Linked DNA regions of Homo sapiens. The protein of the gene in region 2 purifies or fractionates together with the protein of the main gene of each other region. This does not show direct contact. Each region holds a gene or a part of one and is shown on either strand. Other genes may lie near its edges. The genes, in order: INTS12 and KDELR3.

Region 1 (3,822 bases), on a different chromosome or scaffold from region 2:
TAGAAACCTAAGGGCAGCGTGCTTTTTAATCACAACAAATTTTTCATGTTCTTTAAGAGATAAACTTCCATTTTAGAACCCCATTAAAACAATTTTTTTTCTTTAGTAATAATAGGTTTCCCTATCTGGACAATACCAACACCCACAGTGGAATGAATTTGGTAGTATGTTTTGTAGAGCCATATTGATTTGGTCGATCTGAACTCACTGAACCTACTGCAATGAGAATGGATAGAAGAAATGAAGTCACAATGGTTCTGCTATTCAAAATACAATAAAAAGGCTTCGGAGTACTAGACCTAGTATTGAAAGAAGGCTGGGGACAAAATGCCAGTGTTTACTTGGGCTCTGAGCCTGGGACTAGATCCTCTCTTGAGCTTCAGATTCTGGTTAGACTTGAGCTAGTCATGTTCTATTTTCTCCTTCTCAGTTTGGGATCTAAGTCCACAGACCTGAGTGATTTGGAGTTTGAGGGTCAGAGCTTAGAAGGATTTGATAGAATGTCTTAGTAGGTATTAGGGAATATAATAAGAGTTGTCATTCAGTGACAGCCTATTATGTACCAGGCAGGTACTACACTAGGTAACTCATTTACTGGATCTCCTTCAATTTTTACAACTCTGCAAAGTAGTTCTTATTATCCCCATTTTACCAATAAACAGACTAAGTGAAATGAAGTTTCTATGTACCTCAGTTTCCTTATGTAAAATGAAGAAAACAGTTATCTATCTTAAAGGATCATTATCATAATTAAAATTAATTATTCACATAAACTACTCAGAAAAGTGCCTGGGACATCAAGATACGTTGTCTATTATCATCACACAATTATAAGATTTAAGTGGGATTTAAAACAGGTGTGTTTGGTATCAAAACATATATTCTTTTCACATAAAGCTGCCATTGGCTGCTTTGTTATTATCAAGACAGGAGCTACACAGTTCTCAGAGTTCATCCATACCTCCTTTTCTCTTAAATTATCCTACCCATATTCAATTTATTTTGTTGAAAGATCTGTCCTTTTACTTGATTTTTTTTAATCCTTAAAATATTAGGCAATAATTAGAAGTAAGTTGTGGTTACATTCAGCAGCTTAAAAAAAATTCTGATCACAAAGAATCGGAAATTAAAGTAAGTCGTAAACAAGTGAATTCATATACACATAAAGTAGTAGAACAGAATATCCTGCACCCCCAGCTGATTTTTCTATGTGGTGTAACAGTTCTCTGAAAACTTGAAGGGAAAAAAGAAAATAAAGAATATAATTTCTTCATGCTACAAGGAAAGATTATTTCGGCAGAGATTGTTTTGAGATGGTCTATATGTTATCAATGTAGTACTACAGGCCTTACAAAACTCTCTCCAAGCTTTTTATTCATTCAAGTACCTTTTGAGATGGACGGTAACTGGAATCAATGCCCCGAGCCAAAGATTCATCAAGCAGTGCTTTTAGCTTTTCAGCAGAATCTTTACTCTTTGAATGCAAGAAACCTAGTGCTTTCAAAAAAATGGGATCAAGTTCCAAGTTCACAGTAGCAGCCATTGCAAACGCCTGAAGGAAAAAAAGAGAAAGTAATCTAGAAGACAATGCACAATTATCTATGTTAAAGTTTTACTTTTCTGTTTTTTAATTTGTAATAGATAATACTGTACACATGATATAAAATTTAAAATCACCAAAAAGTTATTACAAATAAAAGTAAATTTCCTTCTTATTCCTGACAGGCATTATCTAGTTCCTTCCCCCTGAAACAACTAGCAGTATCAGTTTTCTGTGTATCCATATCGATGGTAACGTTTTAAATCCAGGTAGGCCTCTCCCTGCCACAGAACTCCTTCCTAACTGTGTTTTAAAAGATACACTTCGCAGTTTCAGTACATAGAACTTGATGGGTTTACGTCAAGTTTACTCTGTATCAAAATTTCTTCTCTCAAACCTTATTTCCATAACACAAGGGAAGACTTAGTGTGCAGGTGTTTGTGTGTGTAAGGGCTATCGTAAGAGGGCAATGGTGAAAAGGTATATTAAGTGATTAGCTATCATGGTCACTGCTGCCACTTTTACCTCAACTCTTTTTTTTTTTTTTTCTAAACTCACCTCTTCAGTTCTCTGCCCCAACCCTAAATGTCTCAGAAAACATATTAATGATAACCTTATTTGATCACATTTAGATTGTGGTATCTCATGCATTAACCTATTTTTAAAAGTAAGGTCTCTGAGGGATAATATCATATCTACTTAAAACACACACACACACACACACACACACACACACACACACAGAGCCTATGATGCTTTGTGTCCTAAAGAGCTTAAAAAATAGCCAAGATGGATAAAGATATACATCAAAGGCTTATGAAATTCCACAATACTAAAAAGTTTTGTTTTTAGTTAATACCAATGCTATCATGTGGTTCTGCTTCTGGTTGTCACTTTTTCAAAGACCTCTCCAGGCAAGAAATTATCAAAATAAAAATGTATTCTTTGTGTTCAATCCTTTGATCAATATACTATGGCTTGAAATCTTCTATCCTTGAGGTTAATATTGTATTAATGCAGCACACTTGCATTGCTATAGTTAGGGAACTGTCAGCAATTCCACAGTTATCTCCCATTTTCAGGGGTTTATAACACCATTAAAACTTGCTGTAGGTTGAATCCTAGCATATGAAAGCACATCTGAAAATGGATTTTGTTGTCCCCTCCCCTCCAGCTTCACTCCTCATCCTTCTCCACATCTGACAAGAAACACACATACACATCCCTAGGCTTTTTTTTTTTTTTTTTTAAGTTCCCAGGAAGGTATTAGTTATCTACCTGATAACTACAAAATTACTGTCGAATTCTGTACTGTACTAAAATATCATCTGAATCACCCATGGAAAGGAATCCAAAGGCCAGTACTATAATGAAAAAGTAACCTTATCTCAAACTGTTGTATTTCTAAGAATTTAACAAAATTGAAAAGCAGCCTCTGTCACTTCTTAAAATTATATTATTATATACATCACCTCTACATAATGATAGGTACAGAAAAATTATTTTAAAATTTACTCATGGGGCTGGTCACCATGTACGTTCTGAGGAAAAAATAGCTCCTTAATAAAATTTCCAAGATTAAAAGGGTAAACCTGCCATTCCCCCAGCATATACAAGGGTAACAGCCTAATCTCTTTTTTTTCTTTAAATTCCACTCCTGTGACAGTTTACTAATCTTTCTACTGATTTTATTTCATATAGGTAAAGGAAATAGCAGTTTACTTATCCAGATTGTTATAAAACAATTTATTTTATTGGGTGCTGACCAAAGGGTTGACACCTAAAAGAACCCTTGTAATATATTAGAAAAACCATTTCTTGAAATTTCTATGCTGAAAAATGAAAGCCAAGTATTTATTGCTATGTATTTCTACAATCACAGGTAAGAGGTTTACATTACAGATTAGGTGACAAGAGTCAGCACCTAGATTACAAGACTGCGGAAGTCATCAACACCAACATTCCAGTTGGAACCTTGGAGTCAGTTCTTTTTATGCAATCTTGCCATTATAAAACTTAACAGGCTTTGTACCCCTCCCCTAAATTACTAACATGGCCCTTTGACCCAGTGGTCCCCATGGTGGAATACAGAGAAAAAAATATTAACTTTTTAATTTATTTCTATTTCTTTTTTTTTTTTTTTTTTTTTTTGAGACAGAGTCTCGCTCTGTCGCCCAGGCTGGAGTGCAGTGGCATGATCTCGGCTCATGGCAAGCTCCGCCTCACGGGTTCATGCCATTCTCCTGCCTCAGCCTCCCGAGTAGCTGGGACTACAGGCGCCC
Region 2 (3,822 bases):
GAGGTCTTGCAGCCACTAAGCAGCAAAGTCAGGATTCAAACCCAGGTCGGCCTGGCTCCACAGAATGAGTTTCCAAGCAGGCTACCTCACAGTTTGTGGGGGCTTGGTGGCTTCCCCCAACCATCATCACCCAGCCCCTCACCTTCATTACTGTGTTGTAGATGGAGATGAAGTTGGTGAACAGGTCCAGGTACCTGGTGGTGAAGACGAGAGCAAACAGGATCTGGCTCTTCCCAGAGATGCCTGTGGCCAAGGGTAGACAGGAGACAATGAGGACACAGACTCCCAAGCCTGCCCACCCTCAAGAGGTGCACAGCCTGGAGCTGGGGAGGCCTCTAGAGTGTCCACTCCCACTCAAAGACCTCCTGTCCAGGGCACTGTCGCTCCCTAAGGGCCAGGAAACTCACCCTTCCCATCGGATCACTTGAGTCGTCGTTCCTCTCATTAAACTGTAATCTGTCTCCCAGTCTCCAAATAAAGACACGAACACCGAGTTCCCAGTCCCCCTGCGTGTGCCTGCCTGGGCTCTTGCTCTGGGGAGGATGTCGGGGGTGGTGTGAGTCGGGCTTGGTGGGGGTTGTTGAGGCTTCTCTTCACTCCACCCCCAGAGTTCCACTGACAGTCCCCAAAGCTCAGTCTTAGGAGGAACAACTCACTGACTTTACAAGGTGTTGATTCACCAGGGAGACCAGAGCAGGCAGAGGAAGGTTCAGGGCCAGGGGAGCATTCTATTTTATTTTTCAAACTGTAAGATTTAAAAAGCCTTTTTTCTTTTTTCTTTTTTCTTTTTTTGAGATGGAGTCTCACTCTGTTGCCCAGGCTGGAGTGCAGTGGCGTGATCTCGGCTCACCACAACCTCTGCCTCCTGGGTTCAAGTGATTCTCCTGCCTCAGCCTCCGAAGTAGCTGGGATTACAGGTGCCTGCCACCACGCCTGGCTAATTTTTGAATTTTTAGTAGAGACGGAGTTTCGCCAGGTTGGTCATGGCTGGTCTCAAACTTCTGACTTCAAGTGATCTGCCCGCCTTGGCCTCCCAAAGTGCTGGGATTACAGGCATGACCCACCACGCCCAGCCAAAAAGCCTTTTTTCTAGTTACAAAAGTTATGCCTATATTTACTCTTTGCAAAACAAAAATCAAACAATATACAAAGATGCAAAGATAAAAATATTCCAAACCCCTAGTGTTCATCCTTCCATATCTTTGTGAACATGTACACACATGACACCTATGTGTACACATATGATGCACATGGATGCACTGAGTTGACAAAAAAGGGTTCATACTCTCCATGATGTTTCTTTCTTTTTTATTTTTTTCTTTTTAGAGAAAGGGTCTTACTCTGTCTCCCAGGCTGGGGTGCAGTGGTGCAATCATAGCTCACTGCAGCCTCTATCTCCTGGACTCAAACAATTCTCCTATCTCAGCCTCCCGAGTAGCTGGTAACTACAGACACAAACCATCAGACTGGCAAATTTTATTATTAATTATTATTATTATTATTTTTGTAGAGACAGAGTTTCACTATGTCGCCCAGCCTGGTCTCAAACTCCTGGGCCCAAGTGATCCTCCTACCTCATTCTCTCAGTGTTGGGATTATAGGCGTGAGCCACCGCGCCCAGTCTAAATGCTGTTTCTTGACCCACTTTGGTCTCTTTCTTTTTTTAACTTTTTATTTTGAAAGAATGTTAGATTTACAACAGAGTTGTAAAGACAGTACAGAGAATCCCACATATCCAGCTATATCTAGTGTTAACATCGTATTTGGGCCGGGGGCGGTGGCTCATGCCTGTAATCCAACACTTTGGGAGGCCGAGGCGGGCAGATCACCTGAGGTTGGGAGTTTGAGACCAAGCCTGACCAACTTGGAGAAACCCCATCTCCACTAAAAAATACAAAATTAGCCAGGTGTGGTGGCTCATGCCTGTAACCCCAGCTACTTGGGAGGCTGAGGCAGGAGAATCGCTTGAACCCAGGAGGTGGAGGTTGCAGTGAGCCGAGATCGTGCCATTGCACTCCAGCCTGGGCAACAAGAGCAAAACTCTGTCTTAAAAAACAAAACAAAACAAAACAAAAAAACATCGTATTTAGTGACAGTACTTTATCAAAACAAAGAAATCAACATCAGTAGAGCACTGTTGACTGAACTCCAGGCTTTATTCTGATTTCACCAGTTTTCCCACTGCTGCCCTTTTTCCATTCCTGGATTCCATCCCGGAATCCATGCTGCATTTTGTTGTCATGCTCCTTAGTGTCCTTTGGCCACTTTTTATTTATTTATTTATTTTTTGAGACAGAGTCTCACTCTGTCACCCAGGCTGGAGTGCAGTGGTGCGATCTCGACTCACTGCAACGTCTGCCTCCCGGGTTCAAGTCATTCTCCTGCCTCAGCCTCCCGGGTGGCTGGGATTACAGGCGCCCACCATCATGCCCGGCTAATTTTTGTGTTTTTAGTAGAGATGGGTTTTCACCGTGTTGGCCAGGCTGGTCTCGAACTCCTGACCTCAAGTGACTGCCCACTTCGGCCTCCCAAAGTGCTGGGATTACAGGCGTAAGCCACTGTGCCCGGACAGCAGTCTTGGTTATCAGATGGAAGAAACAGTATATATATAGGGTTTGGTTTAACCCGTGGTTTCAGGCATCCACTGGCAGTCTTGGAACATATCCTCCGTGGATAAGGGGGAACTACTGTGCTGTCTAATTCAGGGTCTGGTTCCCCTGTACCCCTGAACTGTGCCTTCTCTAACCATCCCTCTGGTTCCAGACATTTGGGGTGGGAGAACATTTTTTTTTCTTTTTTTGTGAGGCAGGGTCTCACTCTGTCACCCAGGCTGGAGTGCAGTGACACAATCACAGATCACTGCAGCCTCAACCTCCCAGGCTCGGATGACCCCCCTACCTTAGCCTCCTGAGTAGCTGGGACTACAGGCACATGCTACCATGCCCAGCTAATTTTTATATTTTTTCTAGAGACAAGATTTTGCCATGTTGCCCAAGCTGGTCTCAAATTCCTGGGCTCAGGTGATCCTCCTGCCTCAGCTTCCCAAAGTGCTGGGATTACATGGGTAAGCCACTGCACCCAGCCTGGGGGAACATTTTTAATGAGCAAGAAGGAACACCCCTGAAGTCCCTAACATTCTGGAGAATGTGCTGGCTTTAGGGCGAGCCTCGGTCTCACATTCCTCACCTGCCAAACGGCCCCTCATGCAGAGTGGCAGGACTGAGCTGAGGAATACACAGTGCTCAGTGAGAACCTGAGTCCCTCTGGGGGGTCTAGCACGCGCGCACGTGCACTAGCCGGGGTGAGGGCAACAGTGGGGCTGGCAGTGGGTAATGAACCCCACTGGGGGAGGCCATACTGACCTGAGGCCAGCTCTGGGATGGCCTGATGTTCATCTCACTGAGCCCTCACACAGACTTTGACAGAGAAGCCCTCAGCCCCACGAAGGACTGCCTGGGAGGCAGCCCTGGTGGGGGACGCTTGGTCACCCGCTTGGGCCTTCCCCTACCCCTCTTTTCTCTTCATCCTCAGCCTGCCAGTCCCCTGGGTTTTACTCACATTTTCCTTAGCACTTTGGGAACCCTTGTGATCTTCAGTTTTGTTTTGCTTGTTTGTTTGTTTGAGACAGAGTTCTGCTCTTGTTGCCCAGGCTGGAGTGCAATGGTGCAATCTCAGCTCACTGCAACCTCCGCCTCCCAGGTTCAAGCGATTCTCCTGCCTCAGCCTCATGAGTAGCTGGGATTACAGGCACCTGCCACCATACTCAGATAATTTTTTTGTATTTTTAGTGGAGACGGGGTTTCGCCACGTGCCAGGCTGGTC

The links.
Region 1: the proteins of KDELR3 (region 2) and INTS12 purify together in Homo sapiens (affinity purification with mass spectrometry; one large-scale study listed by BioGRID and IntAct). This does not show direct contact.

What each region holds. Positions count from the first base shown.
Region 1 is NC_000004.12:105,698,463-105,702,284, forward strand, and holds part of INTS12 (integrator complex subunit 12), read right to left. Parts: intron 1,810-3,822; exon of another isoform or gene 1,553-1,809; 5' UTR 1,544-1,552; coding exon 1,388-1,543; intron 1-1,387. UniProt on the Homo sapiens protein: Component of the integrator complex, a multiprotein complex that terminates RNA polymerase II (Pol II) transcription in the promoter-proximal region of genes.
Region 2 is NC_000022.11:38,470,944-38,474,765, reverse strand, and holds part of KDELR3 (ER lumen protein-retaining receptor 3), read right to left. Parts: intron 244-3,822; coding exon 143-243; intron 1-142.